Linked DNA regions of Homo sapiens. The protein of the gene in region 3 interacts with the protein of the main gene of each other region in a biochemical or structural test. Each region holds a gene or a part of one and is shown on either strand. Other genes may lie near its edges.

What was found. Proteins that work in one complex are often made in the same cells at the same time.
Region 1: the proteins of PALS2 (region 3) and SCN5A interact in a test that uses a peptide from one of them, tested with the Homo sapiens proteins (one large-scale study listed by IntAct).
Region 2: the proteins of PALS2 (region 3) and USH1C interact in a test that uses a peptide from one of them, tested with the Homo sapiens proteins (one large-scale study listed by IntAct).
Region 4: the proteins of PALS2 (region 3) and KCNB1 interact in a test that uses a peptide from one of them, tested with the Homo sapiens proteins (one large-scale study listed by IntAct).

Annotation. Positions count from the first base shown.
Region 1 is NC_000003.12:38,642,787-38,646,812, reverse strand, and holds part of SCN5A (sodium channel protein type 5 subunit alpha), read left to right. Parts: intron 1-4,026. UniProt on the Homo sapiens protein: Pore-forming subunit of Nav1.5, a voltage-gated sodium (Nav) channel that directly mediates the depolarizing phase of action potentials in excitable membranes.
Region 2 is NC_000011.10:17,492,999-17,496,533, reverse strand, and holds the end of USH1C (harmonin), read left to right. Parts: intron 1-856; coding exon 857-965; coding exon of another isoform or gene 966-1,181; exon of another isoform or gene 1,182-2,121; intron 2,122-2,157; coding exon 2,158-2,202; 3' UTR 2,203-2,634; downstream 2,635-3,535. UniProt on the Homo sapiens protein: Anchoring/scaffolding protein that is a part of the functional network formed by USH1C, USH1G, CDH23 and MYO7A that mediates mechanotransduction in cochlear hair cells. Required for normal development and maintenance of cochlear hair cell bundles.
Region 3 is NC_000007.14:24,676,964-24,682,304, forward strand, and holds part of PALS2 (protein PALS2), read left to right. Parts: intron 1-2,167; coding exon 2,168-2,370; intron 2,371-3,428; coding exon 3,429-3,557; intron 3,558-5,341.
Region 4 is NC_000020.11:49,475,768-49,479,793, reverse strand, and holds part of KCNB1 (potassium voltage-gated channel subfamily B member 1), read left to right. Parts: intron 1-4,026. UniProt on the Homo sapiens protein: Voltage-gated potassium channel that mediates transmembrane potassium transport in excitable membranes, primarily in the brain, but also in the pancreas and cardiovascular system.

The DNA.
Region 1 (4,026 bases), on a different chromosome or scaffold from region 3:
CCCACCTCCAATGTCTCACTAAGTGAGGTGTGCTGCCCCCTGGCGCACCATGAGAAGAAGAATGGGCAAGTTAAATTTGGGTTGGCAAGCTTGATGAAGAGCAAAGGAAAAGTGACAGATGTTTCATGGTTCTGATTTGAACCTGTTGTACTTCCAGGGACAGATGCTGACATCCAGAAGGTAGTTGGAGGGAAGGGTCCAGGTAGGAAGTATGTTCAGGATGGAGATCTGGGCTGGAAATGGAAACTTAGAGCTTTCAGCAGAGGTTGGTCATTGGAGATGTGGCACTGAGTTAGATTGCCCAGCGAGAGTGCAGACCTGGGGTTCTCACTCCTGGTGACATTAGCATCACTTGGAAAGCTTTAAGTAAAAATACCTATGCTCAGGCTCCAGCCCTAGACATGCTAATTCATTTGACCCTGGGATGAGGCCTGGGCATCGGGAGTTTTGGAAGCACCCAGGTGATTCTAACGTGGTGTAGAGGGTAAGAAGGAAGGGGGCTGAGTCAGGAGCCCAGAAATACTCCAACCATCAAAGCAGGAGAAGTCTGCAGAGAAGGCTGAAAAGGAGCAGCCAGAGAGGTAGGAGGAAAGCCAGGAGTAGGAGGCGCTGCAGAAGGCAAGGAGAGTGCCCTGCTCGGGGGGAGGGAAAGTGCCCTGTTTCTTTCTGCTGAGAGACTTAAGGTGCATTCTCAGAAGTTCATGGATAGATAGAAAAAGAATGAATAATTTAAAAAGAAGTGTCCATTAGATCGAGCCATGGTGAGGGTGCTGGTGACCTTGGTAGGAGAAACTCCACTCAGCGCCCGCAGAATGTAGGGCCCAGTACAGACAGGTTCTTGTTGAATGAATGAATGAGTGACTTGGTGGGAATGGAAGCCAGTTTGGAGTGGGTTGAGAAGCGAGCTGGAGGTGAGGACGTGGAGACAGCATGTATAGACAGCTCTTTCAAAGAGTTTGATGGTTGAAGAGGGAGGAGAGAGATAGAAGGGAGCTGGCGAGGGGTGGGGTCAGGGAGGGCTGTCGGGAGAGCCTGGAGTGGACACTGTGGGCATGCGTGTCCGTGCAGCACATCGCCATGCAGGAGCCTGGGGGAAGGCCTTTCCCTCAGTGAGGGCTGCAGGTCTGTGAGTTAAGATCGTACCAGTGAAGTGTGTAGTGGTTACTGTTTGTTCAGGGGGCAGTCAGGAAGGCCTGGGTAGAGGGAATAACTCTTTCTGTGAATCTCTGGGAGGGAGATTTTGATGGCAGGAAATGTGATTCCTGCTGGGGGTGGCAGGCAGAAAGGGAAGGGAGCCCTTGCTCTGCAGAGAGAAGGGTGTTCCAGAAAGCCGTATTTAGGGACAAGATTAAGTTGTCTAGGGCAGGTATCCAGGGTGATAGGATTGGGAGAAGGGAGCTGGAGTAAAAGCCCTGCGGCTAAATACATGAAGAAGGCAGAGAGAGGAAAAAGCAGGGCCAGTGAGTAGCCTGTGGACAGAGGCTGGGCCCCGTGGGGAGCAGACCCACGACAGGGCTGGCCAGGGCTGCAGGGGAAGCCTGGGACGGGAGAGCCCCACAGCCTGCTGCCAGCCCAGGCTGCCCTGATGCAGGGGTCTGAGGCAGAGTTCATGCCTTTGGGCCATGGAAGGTTCTAGAAGGTGTACAAGCTATAACAATTGTTCTTATGAAGTTTACATACAAGTAGGGAGATACCATTAAACCAATCCATACAGAAGATAATTTGAGATAGGGGCTAGTGCTATGAAGGAAATACAACAGGACAATGTGATGGAGAGACGTGGGGGTGACTCTAGACTGGCTGGGCAGGGAAAGCCCCTTGAAGGAGGAGACTGAACTGAGACCTGAATAACATGAAAGAACCAAGCCCGAGGAGGTCTAGGGAAAGAATGTTACAGAGGGAACTGCAAGTGCAAAGGCCCTGAGGCAGGGGCAAACTCTGTGGGTTGGAGCAGAGGGAATAGGGTAGGGATGGAGAGGTTCTGTGCCTCTGTTTCTGACCCACCCCTTCAGACTGCCCATTCGGCTATGCACAGCTTACACCACTCGCCTCAGGCTGGCAGCGGTTCCTGGGGATGAGACTATTTTTAGACACAACTCTCCTATCCGTGGGCCTAGAACATACCGTGTCTTTTTAAGATGATCAATATGGAATGACGCTATTTATAGAGACCCCACATCAATTCTCAGAGCCTGGGAGCCCCAGTGTGGGGACAGTCCCAGGACCAGGCTTTGTGGAGGTAGGCACCACCCCTGGCACAACACTGAGGCCATCTGACATCAATTCTTTAACACTTATCTTACCTTCTCCACCCCGCCTGCCGTCACTTGTCTTCCCTGAAGAGCCACAGCCATGGGCTGGGGAGCTTGGTACCCACAGCCTCCCCCTGCAACTTCATTTCCCCAAGGGGTACCTGGTATGCCCCAAGTCCAACATAAAATTTAGTTGTGATTTGCGAAGCCAGAGTCTGATAGAACAGTTTCTCAACCTCTCTTGTCCATTCCTCACTCTGTTTACTATTCTGGAGGGGCAGAAAAGGACAGTGAAAATTCTTAAGACCTCCTAGGTTCGCCTCAGAGGGCCAGGGAGAGATCCGCCCAGGACAGGAAGAATGTAAGGTTGAACTTAGGGGCTGAGCTTCCCTGGTGGGAGGTCATTGTGGCCCAGAGCAGCCAGGCGAGACTGCCTGGAACAGGTGGGACTGGTACCCCTCCACAGAGGATGCACAGAATTCAGAGAGGTGAATGCCCAGATCATGTGACTGGGCCTGTTGTCAGGAGAGAATGTCTATGCACTGAGGCTTCAGTTCTTTCTCTCCTCTTCAGTTTCTTCTTCTGTTTAAATCTCCTAGGGAGGCAATGGAAAGTCATGTCCCCACAGAGGTATTAGCAGAGTGGAGGGATGGAGCTGCTCTCGCAGCATCTCTGTGTGCCCAGGAGGGTCTCTTGTCCACTCAGAAACCCCTGTCATCATCACCAAGGGCTTTCCTTGGCCTCCTAACAGCCCTGGGTGGCCAAGGCTGGTGCTGGCTGCCCCATAGGCTCAAGGTCACACGGGGAAGTGGGCAGAGCTCAGACAGGACTTCACCCTTACCCTTGCCCAGGGAGCCCCCGTGGTTTCTGGGAATGGATTTTGAACAGGAGAGAGGCTTCTCCTGGCACCAGGAGAAAGGTAAATGCCGTTCTGGTAGGTATTGATTCCTCGAAGGCCTGTGCAAGGCAAGAGGCCGCTTTCAAAGAGTTGGCAGAGCAGAGAGAGGTAATCTGGCTTCAGGCACCAAATCAGTTCTCAGGGTACTCAAGCTACATTAGCCATCCCCCTACACTCAGGCTTGGCTGGGAGGTACCCCAAATGATCTAAGATGGGGGAAAAATCAGACCATGGGTGGGACCAGCCAAGCCCAATCAGTGCACCCTGCCTGGCCATCAAAGCCCCAGCCTCATCGACCTGGGCCAAGCGCAGGAAAGTGGCCCAGACAAGCCCCTCAGAGCCAAGGTGCCCGCCCTTGGCTGCGCAGCTCTGCTGCCTCTGGGCATGCTCCTAGGAAGAACCCCAGCCCCGCATTCATTCTGTACTGAGCCCAGGGCTCCACTCAAGGGACACCAGCTGGTGTGGGGTACAAGGAGGCTGAGGGCCAGAGACCACCCACCCCAGCCTCTGTTCCTCATGTTCTGCTCATAGACGTGGTCAGAAGAAGACACGGGAGCTCAGCCGGCCATTTGCAGCGACAGCCTCACCACTGTGCTGGGTCAGATGCAGCACAGACTGCCAGTTAAATAAAGCGACAGCTAGTTGCCAGCAAAACTGGAAACCCAAGGAAAGCCCCCACTTGCTTGCGGAGCCTAGGTGCCTATTAGATGTCTAATTGCTGAGCTTCTGTTTCAGGAAGTCCGAGGGAAGGAGAGATAACAACTCCCTAAGGATCCCTTGGGGTCTATGGTCCCCAGAGATAGCTGGACTTCAGGTCCCTTCCAGTCCTCGCCTTTTATGATCAAATTAAGGACACGTCCCCAGATGGGTGACTTG
Region 2 (3,535 bases), on a different chromosome or scaffold from region 3:
ACTATGGGGAATTGAGGCATGAGGTCTTAGACCGGGTAAGCAGAGACGTTGGGAAAAAGACTCAGGATTGTTAATTCCCCACTCAGAACTTTATCCCCTGCCCCATTATTAGATGGTTAGAAGGTGTCTGTGTCCATCCTTCACTCTCTGGAAGGTCTTCCTGATGTCTAACTGCATTCACTCATACTGTGCCTCTAGGCAGCCGGGACCACAGGCTTTTGTCCCCACGCTGTGGGATCTCCAGGGAGCTTTGGCCTAGACTGTCTCTCTCTGTGATTCCCTGTGTGTCTGTCTCTTGTGTCCTGTGGGTCTCTCTGTCTTCTCTCCTCCTCCCTCTCTGTCTTTCTTTCACCCTTTCCTTCCTTCCTGTCAACATCTTATCTGCCCCCCTCCTTCCCCTTCATCCCGGTCCCCTTTCTCTCTCACTGTCTCCTATTCTTTCTTCCTGTTTCTCTTCATCCCTGTCTCTGAGTCCCTGTTCCTCTGTCCTTGTCATTCTGCATCCATTCTTACCTCTTTGTCTGCCTTTCTCTGTTTCTCTGCCTCTGTGTGGTGTCTCACCTCCATCCTCACCTCATCCCATCACCTCCCCAGCCCTCACCCACCCACCACTCACCCACTCACTGACCATGCCCTGCCTCCCTGTCGTGGCTGGGCCTGCTTGCTCCCCGTGCCCAGCAGAATCTGAGCTCTACACATGTCTTGGAGAAACCAGGGTCTCGCAGCTCCTAATTCTGGAACCCAGGGGCTAGGCAGAACCCGAGGCAGGAGCCCAGTGAAAGGAGAAGCCCCATGGAGCTCTGCCTGGGAGTAACCAAGCCTGTTTTGTGTTTCTTGCTCTGCTCTGTATATATAGAGCTTCTCTTCCCTCCTCCGTAGCTGAAAGCCCCCAACCGGTCCGAAAGCTCCTTGAAGACCGTGCTGCCGTGCACAGACACGGGTTCCTCCTGCAGCTGGAGCCCACGGTGAATAGGCAGGCGGGCCACAGGGCCCTGTGTGTCCCTGCTGCTTGCAGTGGCCATCTGCTGCCCACGCTGTCAGCAGGTTCTTTGGACTGGCGTCTGGAGGGTACACAAGGCGCCATCCCTGAAGTGCTGCCTGGGGCCTGCTGTTGGCCACAGTGGAATTCCTCAGACTCAAAGCCCTCCCCTCAGGGAAGTGGTGCAAAGCCCAGTCTGTAGTACTTGCTTGGGACCCAGGTGTCCTGACTCATCACGGCCCTGGGACCTGCTTTGGGTCCCAAGCAGCACCCAAATGAGCAGGATGAAGCCCTGGGCAACATTCTCTGAGGGACACAGACAATGCCTCGAACCAGGCATGTGGGGCTGAAGGAGCCCACAGGAAGCCTGGCTGGAATTGCCCCCAAGAGATGTCCTCAACAGAATGTGAAAATTCCCCTTCCTGTGAATGCCAACCTCCTGGGAGCTCTTGCTCCACCATGGCCCCCACACTTGGCCAGAACCAGGGCTATTAAGAGGTTTTGAAGGCTGGTCCAAAGAACCAGGGTTGGTGGATTAGAGTTGCTCATGTCCTGTTGTGCCCTGTCATGGCCTGAGCCGTGCTTAGACCAAACGGTCTTCTCTGCCTTCTCCCTTCCTTGGCTCTGGGCTCTATCTGTGGGATATACCGTGGAACCCAGCTGTAGGATGTGTTTCTCACCCTGTGATAGGGATGTGCCCGTGGACAGAGCTGGCAGGTGGCTGTGAAACTGGTGTTTGGTGTGGCCTGAAGCCACAGATGGCAGCATCTGGGGCAGACCCAAGCCTGGACTTGACTTTTCTGTTACAACTTTCCCAAAACATTAGGGCCTCATGCTCCCAAGACACTTGGCCGGGTAGACCATGGCTTCTGGGGTGGCCTGCATGGCCCTATGTTTTCTGTTACTTGCCTTTTGCAAAGGACTCTTGCCCCTGTTCCTCCCAGTCTCCTCCTTCCCCCATCCCAGGTGTCCCTCCCGCTTTCTCCCTGGCCTCCTGTGTGCTGTGGCTGTGGCTGGTGTGTAGCCACTTGGGGCCTGCACCCAGAGGGGTCTCCAAAGGGTGGCAGGGCCTTGTGCTGCCAGAGTGGGTACTCCCCCTTGTGGGGCCTTGCTCTGGCTGGGCTGAGTGTGCACCCACAAAGCCTGTATCCACCTGGGCTGTTTCCACTTCCCTGCAGGACCTTCTTCTGAAGTCCAAAAGGGGAAACCAAATTCACCGTTAGGAAACAGTGAGCTCCGGCCCCACCTCGTGAACACAAAGCCTCGGATCAGCCTTGAGAGAGGCCACACTACACACACCAGATGGCATCCTTGGGACCTGAATCTATCACCCAGGAATCTCAAACTCCCTTTGGCCCTGAACCAGGGCCAGATAAGGAACAGCTCGGGCCACTCTTCTGAAGGCCAACGTGGAGGAAAGGGAGCAGCCAGCCATTTGGGAGAAGATCTCAAGGATCCAGACTCTCATTCCTTTCCTCTGGCCCAGTGAATTTGGTCTCTCCCAGCTCTGGGGGACTCCTTCCTTGAACCCTAATAAGACCCCACTGGAGTCTCTCTCTCTCCATCCCTCTCCTCTGCCCTCTGCTCTAATTGCTGCCAGGATTGTCACTCCAAACCTTACTCTGAGCTCATTAATAAAATAGATTTATTTTCCAGCTTATAGGAGTGAGTGTGGATTTGGGCAGCAGATTCAAGGCTGCAAATCAAAAAACCATAAGGTTTGTGGCCCCTATTCAAGGGTGATAGACAGATCCCAGTGCTGTGATCTGGGTCTGACATGAAGGGTGTGATCAAATGGCCAGGGCTGGCTTGGAGCAGAGGTTGAGAAAGCAGGAGATGGGCTGGGCTGGGCTTCAATGTCTTCTCAGCAGAGATGGTAGGAGATGAAGTCTGTGTGGCAGGGATTTTGCTCAATTCCAGAAAGCAGAGCTGAAGGCAGGAGCCCCGAAGGGTCACCTCATGATATGGGGTGCCCAGCTTCTTTCAAGAACGACACAGCCACCAATGCTTCTCCTGAGGTCACCACGACAGCATGTGAGGGAGGAAGATGGCAGGGTCCACTCCCTCCGTGGAAGCACATCCCACAGAAGCTCATGGGAAATGCAAGGGCTTGAGGCAGGAAGGCATAACTCCGGGGGCCCAGCAGGGGGAATGTCACAGTTCTTCTGGTGACAGGGACCAGGGCTGCTAGCTCTGAGGAAGAGGGTGGGGCTGTATCAGCACGACTCGCCTGACCCCGTCTCTGTTTCCCCATTCCAAATTCCTGTGGTACAATCTGATCAGGCCAAATCACCTGAGCGGGCGACCCTTGGGTTAGGGACCAGTCACAGGTCCAATCAGCTGTGGCCGGGGGTGGGGTCACATCCCACCCAACATGGCTGCTGAGGCAGCAAGGACCGTGGGCAGCAAGTCATGATCACCACCCCTACCAGAGGATGACTATGACATCTCTCCTCCCCCACCAAACCCTGGGTATGGAAAGGAAGTGGACTGGGGTCCCAAGGGAAGGCAGTCTTAGGGAGAGTGCCTCTGTGTGAGGGGACCACAGGAAAACCC
Region 3 (5,341 bases):
GGCAGTATGGCCATTTTCACGATATTGATTCTTCCTACCCATGAGCATGGAATGTTCTTGCATTTGTTTGTATCCTCTTTTATTTCGTTGAGCAGTGGTTTGTAGTTCTCCTTGAAGAGGTCCTTCACATCCCTTGTAAGTTGGATTCCTAGGTATTTTATTCCTTTGAAGCAATTGTGAATGGGAGTTCACTCATGATTTGGCTCTCTGTCTGTTGTTGGTGTATAAGAATGCTTGTGATTTTTATGCATTGATTTTGTATCCTGAGACTTTGCTGAAGTTGCTTATCAGCTTAAGGAGATTTTGGGCTGAGACAATGGGGTTTTCTAGATATACAATCACGTCATCTGCAAACAGGGACAATTTGACTTCCTCTTTTCCTAATTGAATACCCTTTATTTCCTTCTCTTGCCTAATTGCCCTGGCCAGAACTTCCAACACTATGTTGAATAGGAGTGGTGAGAGAGGGCATCCCTGTCTTGTGCCAGTTTTCAAAGGGAATGCTTCCAGTTTTTGCCCATTCAGTATGATATTGGCTGTGGGTTTGTCATAGATAGCTCTTATTATTTTGAGATACGTCCCATCAATACCTAATTTATTGAGAGTTTTTAGCATGAAGGGCTGTTGAATTTTGTCAAAGGCCTTTTCTGCATCTATTGAGATAATCATGTGGTTTTTGTCTTTGGTTCTGTTTATATGCTGGATTACATTTATTGAGAAGTTTTATTATACACACCTTTGGTGACTAATTCCAGAAACCTTAAAGATCACACAGTTTTAAATATGAAAAGCCATCATAGCATCTTGAAGATTCTCAAAGATACTTTATAAATACTCTTCACAGTAGTCTAAGACGACCACTCTCAAGGTTGAGCCAGAAAACAAGGGGAAAACAGGAGTCCTATTATACATAATGATCTCATTTGACCCTTATTTTTGAGCATGAGTTTGAAGTTCATTTTGTTCTTATAAAAGTTTTCTATGTCTTAGGCTTATTAGAAATAGTCAAAACACTGTCATCTTTTTATTCGGATTACTTTCTTAGTTTAGTTTGGTGTAGTTAATAATTCCATCAGTTATTCTCCAACTACTTAGCTAATAGAAACAGGATACTTCTTATATCCGATCCAGCAAAGCCCAGAGTAAGGCTAAGCTTGAAATAACACGCTCAAAAATTACTTTTCTTCTTCAAAGCTGTTGTTAACAAAGTTGTCAGAGAGTACACATTTGCAACAGTTTAAAAAATGGTAATAACCGTTCCTAGCACAGACCAACTTGCAAAGGGTTGTATGTCTCTGAAAGTATTCAAAGCTGTAAAATATCAGACAAAAGGATCTCCTACTTCTAAATTTTGACTTGAGCTATTCAATCTCATTTTCCCAGAAATAATATGTCAGGTCAGAGGAGAGGAGGTTAATAGACCATAATAATAATGAGGCGTCTAGCTCTACCACTGAAGTATAAAATAGAACAGTTAACATTTGGGAATATCAATAAACAGGAAGCTAAAAGCGTTGGTTTTGAGGTAAGATAAAAGATAGATAATTTGTGGGTAAAACTGCACTTTACAAAATTGGTATCACAACTAAGAACAGGTGAACTTTGCTTGCTCACGTTTTGGGGCAGTTAGGAAGTGTTAATGTGGAAAGAAAAGATGTAATAGATTCCTAAGGAGAAGGAGAGTGCTGGTCAGTTGAAAAGATACTCACTCACAACATGCCTCAAACACTTACCATAATTAAGAACTTCATTGAAGGCTCTGCTGCTAGGTAAATATACTTTGAGTTTCAAAGTGATTTTAAGAAGCATATTTTTGGATACAAATTTTATTTGGGGGACTACCTCTTAAAATATTCCCCTAAGGTATCAAGAAACTTTTCTATTAAAGGGCCACATGGTAAAGTTTTAGGCTTCGCAGTCCATACAGTCTGTCACAATTACTACCACCATTTTAATGGGAAAGAAACCATGTATGATACATAAACAAATGAGTATGGCTGTGGTCCAATAAAACTTTATTTACAAAAATAAGAAGCAGATCAGATCTGGTCATAGCCTACAGTTTGCTGCACCCAGTGGAAAAACGTTAAGCCACCCTATGTATTTTAGTCTATTTTTTATGCCCTAAAATTTCTTTGTACAAAAATCTCAACACTATTTTATTTAGTTACTTCACGGAAACCAAGGGAAGATGAAAAAGATGGCCAGGCATATAAGTTTGTGTCACGATCTGAGATGGAAGCAGATATTAAAGCTGGAAAGTATTTGGAACATGGGGAATATGAAGGAAATCTCTATGGAACCAAAATTGATTCTATTCTTGAGGTTGTCCAAACTGGACGGACTTGCATTCTGGATGTCAACCCACAAGTAAGCTGCTTGGATTCCAAAGCTGTTTTATATTTTATTTTCTGTGGAGTTTTTTTCATGTGTGTCGGGGTTGTTGGGTTGGGGTTGTTTGTTTTGTCAGGGTGGAAAGGTGACTCCCTCCATTACCTTTGGGTGATAGAGAATGTTATTATGTATACATAGCTAGTTAAATAAATCTCTGAACAATTAGCCAACAGAGGCTTGGGTGGCAATAGAAACTGTGTGATTAGATCTACAATAGAAGTTTAGTATGTATTTATTTACCTGTTCAAGTAATGCATAAGTGCTTGTGTTAAGAAATGTTAAGTTTAAAACTCAAGTCTGCAATATAAAGAATAAAAAATTAAAGTCACTCCCCCTCCTACCTGACACACATGCACACCTCTACACTATTCATTTTGTCACTCTATATTTCTGTCACCTACCCCTTCCCACTCCGCTACACTCAGCCCAACCTCACGTCCCTACTCAGAGATAAAAATTGTTAATAGTTTCTTATGTCTCTTTCTAGTCATTTCACTATGCCTTAAATACAAATATATATAAGGTAATGGGTTTTCTGTTTTTGTTGTTTCTTTTTACATAAATGGAAAAATTCTATATAGATTCTTCAGGGGTTTTATTAAATAGAACTATTCCTTGGAGATCTTTTTGTGGTAGTTACTGTAGAGCTTTTTTTCTTTGTAATTGCTATATAGTATGAATATATATTCATTTAACCACTCTCCAATTAATCAACATTGAGGTTATTTCTACTTTTTGAGTATTAACAGAATTCTACAATTAACATAAAAAAGAGTTTACATCACTCTTGATGATTTTTGGATCATTGTTTTATACTTTGTTCAAGAGGAACAGACTGAGTTCAAAACAAAATAAATGGATCACTGTTTTAAGAAAGTACTATATGGAATGAGAAGGACAGAACAGGGATAAGTATTAAGTTATGTCCTTTAATTCATAGAACAAGTGCAAACAGCCTTTGATATATACTAAAGGGTAGCAGAATTCTAGTTCTAATATTGTATAAATTGGCTTATAATTATTCTTTTACACAGGCACTGAAAGTATTGAGGACATCAGAGTTTATGCCCTATGTGGTATTTATTGCGGCTCCGGAGCTAGAGACGTTACGTGCCATGCACAAGGCTGTGGTGGATGCAGGAATCACTACCAAGCTTCTGACCGTGAGCTAACCATACGATTTTCCTTCTAAAATCTTTCCTTTTCTTTTGAGCATGTTTAACTGTTATCTAATTTATTTTTATTTATTTATTTTTGAGGCAGAGTTTTGCTTTGTCACCCAGGCTGGAGTGCATTGATGCGATCTCAGCTCGTTGCAACCTCCCCGTCCCGGGTTCAAGCGATTCTCCTGCCTCAGCCTCCCAAGTAGCTGGGATTACAGGCATGCGCTACCAGGCCTGGCTAATTTTTGTATTTTTAGTAGAGACGGGGTTTCACCATGTTGGCCAGACTGGTCTTGAACTCCTGACCTCAGGCAATCTGCCCACCTCGGCCTCCCAAAGTGCTAGAACTACAGGCGTGAGCCACCGTGCCTGGCCAACTCTTAGCTAATTATGCTTATGAAATAAACATGCTATATAAGGTGCTACAGAATGAAAATTAATTAGATGTAGTTAGGATCTGGAACAGTATTCTTTTACTTGAAAATCATTGTACACTTTATTTTAAATCAAAAGTTTAGTTCCCCTTTGTAAAATGAAATGGACCAATATTAAAATATGCGTATTAATTGAACGCCTTCATTTTACTAGTGGGGTAACTGGGCTCCGAGATCATTAACAGGCATGTTTATTATATGGTTTATCATTGGTAAAGTGGGGTGTTCTGATGTTTAGTTTCTATTACATGTTTTTTCCTTTTTTTCCTGTCTACTTTTTTACTTAATGGAAATTCAAAAATATATACAAAAGAGGGAATAAATGAGTCCCTATGCCGATCGCCTAGCTTCAATAATCGTGGCAATTTCTTGTTTTAATTAGACCCCTCCCCACTTCCTCCTCACCTTGAATTATTTTGAAGCAAATCTTTGATATCATGTCATCTGTAAATACTTCAGTATTTATATCTAAGAGATAAAGACATTTAAAACATACCATTAATACAACAAAAATTAATAAGCAGTATCTTACTATCATCTACATGCAGTCTATATTTGAGTTTCTCCAAGATTTTTTTTTTTTTTTTTTTACTGTTGATTTGTTCAAATAAGGATTCAAACAAGATCAACACATTGAATTTACTCATTGTCACCTAAATCTTTTGCCAGCTTAATTGAGGTATAATTGACACATAATAAGCTGTGCCTACCTAACATGTACAGCTTGATCAGTTTGGCCACATATTTGTACTCATGAAAGCCATTACAACCAAAATAATGAACATGTCCATCATCTCCACACATTCGCCTGTGCTCCTTTGTAACCTGCTCCCCACACCCTTCCCCCTACCACTGTCACCTTTTCCCCTCACTGTACTTGATTATATGCCATGAAATCAGGTAGTATTAGTTTTCTTTGTTCTTTTTCAAGTTGATCCATGTCTCTACTTTCTGAACGTATGAAACATAGTGTTTAATGTCTTTGCAGGTTCTAACATTTGAGTCAGTTCTGGATTGGTTTTGATTGAATGATTTTTCTCTTTATTATGAGTATATCTTCCTGCTTCTTTGCAATCCTGGGAACTTTCTTTGGATGCCAGACATTGTGAGCTTTGTTCTAGGATGCAGTTATTTGGAAATAGTTTGTTTTTTTCAGGTCTCACTTTTTAAATGTGTTAGGTAAGACCCAAGCAGTTCTCATTTTAGGGCCAGTTAATCCCCACAAATAAGGCAAGACCCATTTGGTACTCCTACCACAGGGCTTGTGAGTCATGAGATTTTCTGTTCTGGCTAAGGGGGAATAGGTACCATTCCTGGGTACCTCTAATCCTTTCTGGTGGTTCTTTCTCA
Region 4 (4,026 bases), on a different chromosome or scaffold from region 3:
CGCAGCCTCCTCCCCAGTCTCCCGGCTTCCACTTTTGCCCCTGCAATCCATTCCCCACATAGCAGCCAAAGTGAGCTTTTCAAAATGTAAATTGGATCACATTATTCATCTGCTTAAAATCCTCCAGAAGTTTCCCATCACACTCAAAATAAAATTCAGACTTTTCATCCTGGCATACAAGGCCCAGGCAGAATCTGGCCCCCATGACCTCTCTGGGCTCATCTCTTTTGATCTCCTCTGGTTCACTTGGCTCCAGCCCCACTGGCCTTGCTGTTCCATAAACAGGCCAGAGTTTATCTGACCTCAGGACCCTTGCACTTGCTGTTTCCGCTGCCTGGAATGCTCTTCCCCAGATTCCCCCTTGGCCAGCCCCTTCTCCCCCTTCCTCATTTGAGCAGGTCCCTGCTCACATGTCCCCTCCTCATACAGACCTTCCTTGACCGCTGTTCTAAACAGTTTCCCTCCCCTCACTCTCTGTTGCATCATGCAATGCCTTTCCTGCAGAGGCCTTAAACGCCATCTGAAATTATATTTCCTTCTTTGTGTGTCTCTGTTTCACACCCACAAGAATGTGAGTACCATGAGTTGATTCACTGCTTGATTCCCAGCACCCATGATGGTGCCTGGCACTGAGGAGCATGTGGAATGAATAAATGAATGAATGAACGAATGAATGAATGAACGAATGAATGAATCAAGCAAGCAAGCAAGCAGTCAGTCACTGTGTCTCAGGGTTTGGGGACCTGTCACCCCTTCTCACTGCCCACCTGCAACCCAGGTCCCTGTGCCTCTGGCCTCCTTTGAGTCATCTGCACCTTGCCCATCCCATCCCCACCCATCCCCCCAGCTTGGATGCCTTGCTTGTCAAAACAAGCAAAGCCTGTGGAAATTGCTTAGAACTCACAGAGTGACAGGACCAAATGGAGGATCATTTCTAGGTGATTGTAAGATACAAAAGTGGCCATATCTCATATGCTGAAGAGCAAGGATGGATCTGGTTCTGTGCCACTCCCCACTTCCATAGCTTTTAGCTAATTTCTCCAACTTTCCAAGTCCCAACCTTCCACCTGTAAAATGGAGATAAAAGGCTCACCTTACAGGGTCTTCATTAAATCACATTTGTCAAAATTTTGCTCAAAGCCTAGCACATAGCAGGTGGGGATTGTTGTTATAAATGCTAAGGAAAAGAGTCTTTTTTCTAGGGCTGGGTGGGCCGAGTTGCTGCAAACCCTTTCCTTCTGAGAGCAGCAGGGCCAGGGAGACTGAGCTGACACTGTTAATAATTGATGGGATGTTCTGGCAACTCGGAGACAAACCAAAGCACAGGCCCTAGGCTTTGCCATCAGGGGAGCGAAAATCAAAACCCATTAGGCAAAAGGCAGTGTGATTGATTCTTGTTTAGAAGATGGGGACAGCCCCATTGGTGTGACAGGGTTGCGGTGCTGGGGCTACCACGGGGCTTTGGCTTTCTCGGAAAACTCGACAGGCTTTTCTCAGTAGGAGAGACAGGGAACTGATTTGCCAGCCCAGGAGTGTCTGTGATCCCTGGGATAGTCTCAGGATTAAAGCCCTGAGATAACTTCCTAATTTCCAGGGTAGCTTATGTTTGTTGTGCCCAGCACTGATTAGTGGTGCTTCATATCTGCTATCTCATTGAAATTCCTCCAACAGGGATACAACCAGGTAGTATGCCAGTTAGGGATGCTTTGGGCTGCAAGCAGCAGAATAGAAAACTCAAAGTAGCTTCAATAAGGAGGAAGATGCATCATTGAATATAATATGAAGTTCCAAGGCAGTTGGTTTTAGGTTGAGTTAATGGCTCAATGATGCCACCAGGATTCTAGATTCTTTTCATCTCTCTGCTCCTCTGCTCCCCAACCCCTGCAAGTGGCTTGGTCCTCATGCTTGATGCTTCATATCACAAGATGGCTGCCCAGTTCCAGCCCTCAGACGTACATTCAGTGATGTTTAATCCGTGAAGAGAAACATTTTCTCCTATGCTCCACTTTCTTTCTTTTGTTTTTGAAATGGAGTCTTGCTCTGTCGCCCAGGCTGGAGTGCAGTGGCATGATCTCGGCAGCTCACTGCAACCTCCGCCTCCTGGGTTCAAGCAATTCTCCTGCCTCAGCCTCCTGCCGAGTAGCTGGGATTACAGGCATGTACCACAATGCCTAGGTAATTTTGGGGTTTTTAGTAGAGACAGAGTTTCACCATGTTGGCCAGGCTGGTCTCAAATGTCTGACCTTAAGTGATCTGCCCGCCTTGGCCTCCCATAGTGATGGGATTACAGGTGTGAGCCACAGCGCCTGGCCCACTTTCTTTTTTTTTCTGAGAGGAAACCCTTTCCCAGGAGCACCCTAGCAGACTTCTTTTAAAATCCCATTGGCCAGGACAGGTCACATGCTCATGCTCTAGCTCTGAGGGAACCTGAGAAAGCAAGTGTCTGGCATTTTCAGATGAGAGAGGGAATGGATCTGATAAGTGGTATGAAGACTCTTTTACAGAACAGGAAATGGAGGCTCTGAGAGGCGAAGTCACTTGCCTGAGCCCACACAGCTAGGTTCTCAGTAAATATTTATCAAAGGAATGAAAATTGCAGAGCCAAGGTTTGAACCCAAGTTTGTCTGGTTCCCAAGCCTATGTTTCTAAATCCTGGGACCTTGGGTGGATCATTTTAGCTCTCAGGTCCAGTGAATTCATCTGCCTGATGGTGATAATAGTCATAGCTCCCTTTCAGGGCTCTTTTGATGATTCAATGAGATTTCAGATGTGAATGTAATTTGTAAATGGAAAGTACTTTATAAGTATGAAGTATTATTGTATTCAAAAGTGGGAGTGGCCTTTATTTATTTATTTTTAATTTTTTAACTTTTTTCAGAGACAGGGTCTTGCTCTGTCACCCAGGCTGGAGTGCAGTGGTGCAATCAGAGCTCACTGTAACCTCAAACTCCTGGGCTCAAGTGATCCTCCTGCCTCAGCCTCCTGAGTAGCTGGGACTACAGGTGCACACCATCACTCCTGGCTACATTAGAAATTTTTTTTTGTGGAGACAGGGTTTTGCTACATTGTGCTGGCTGGTCTCGAACTCCTGGGTTCAAGTGATCCTCCCATCTAAGCTTCTCAAAGCACTGGGATTAAAGGTGACAGCCATCATGCCCAGCTTAGAGTGGCCTTTCTTTAGGAACAGTGGTCAATATTTTTCCCATCACAGACTTGATTAAGAATCAGCTCTGGAGTCCAACAGATGCGGTTGATTTCTTGTCTCCATTGCTTACCATGAATATGACCTTGGGCAAGCCCCTTTCCTTCTCTGAGTGTCACTTTCCTTATCTAGGAAATGAGAATTATAACAGAGGCAACCATGAAGAGCTGTTAGGAGATGCCCCTAATGTAAAGAGCCTAGCCCAGCGCCTGACTCATGGGAAGCATTCAGTAAGTGGCAGCAACGATTGTTAGTGTTTTCACGGAATTCCTCTGCTCCAGCTACACGTCTCTAGTGTAATGAGGTTCCAGCTTCCTTGACCTGAGCCACAAGGATCTGTGTATTATCATCAAAAGAAATGCGGGAACCAACTCAGAATCTATGGGGCCCCTTCAGTGTGATGAGTCATCGACTTAGGCTCTTGCTGGCCCCAGCTTGGTCAAACCAGATGCCTGTTTTTATCCTGGCAGATAATATGCCAGCAATTCTGAATCCTGATTGTGGGGTCACACAGACCTGGCTTCGAATCGCAGCCCAGCCTTGTCCTAGCTGTGGACTTTGGCCAATTTGCTTCACCTCTCATCACTTCCATTTCCTAATCTGTAAGTGAGGGCGATAATAAAACCTACTCCACAGGGTTGTCTGAAGGATGAAGGATGATAGCACATGATCAGAGTTGAAGCTGTGCCTGAGAAATCCCACATCCCCACAGGATAAAGAAACCCAGAGACCCAGGATGCTCCAGTGACCTGCTGAGGATCACACAGCCCATCATAGCCTTTCAAATCCCCTGAGAGACCAGCTGCTAAGAGATGATCCTGGTC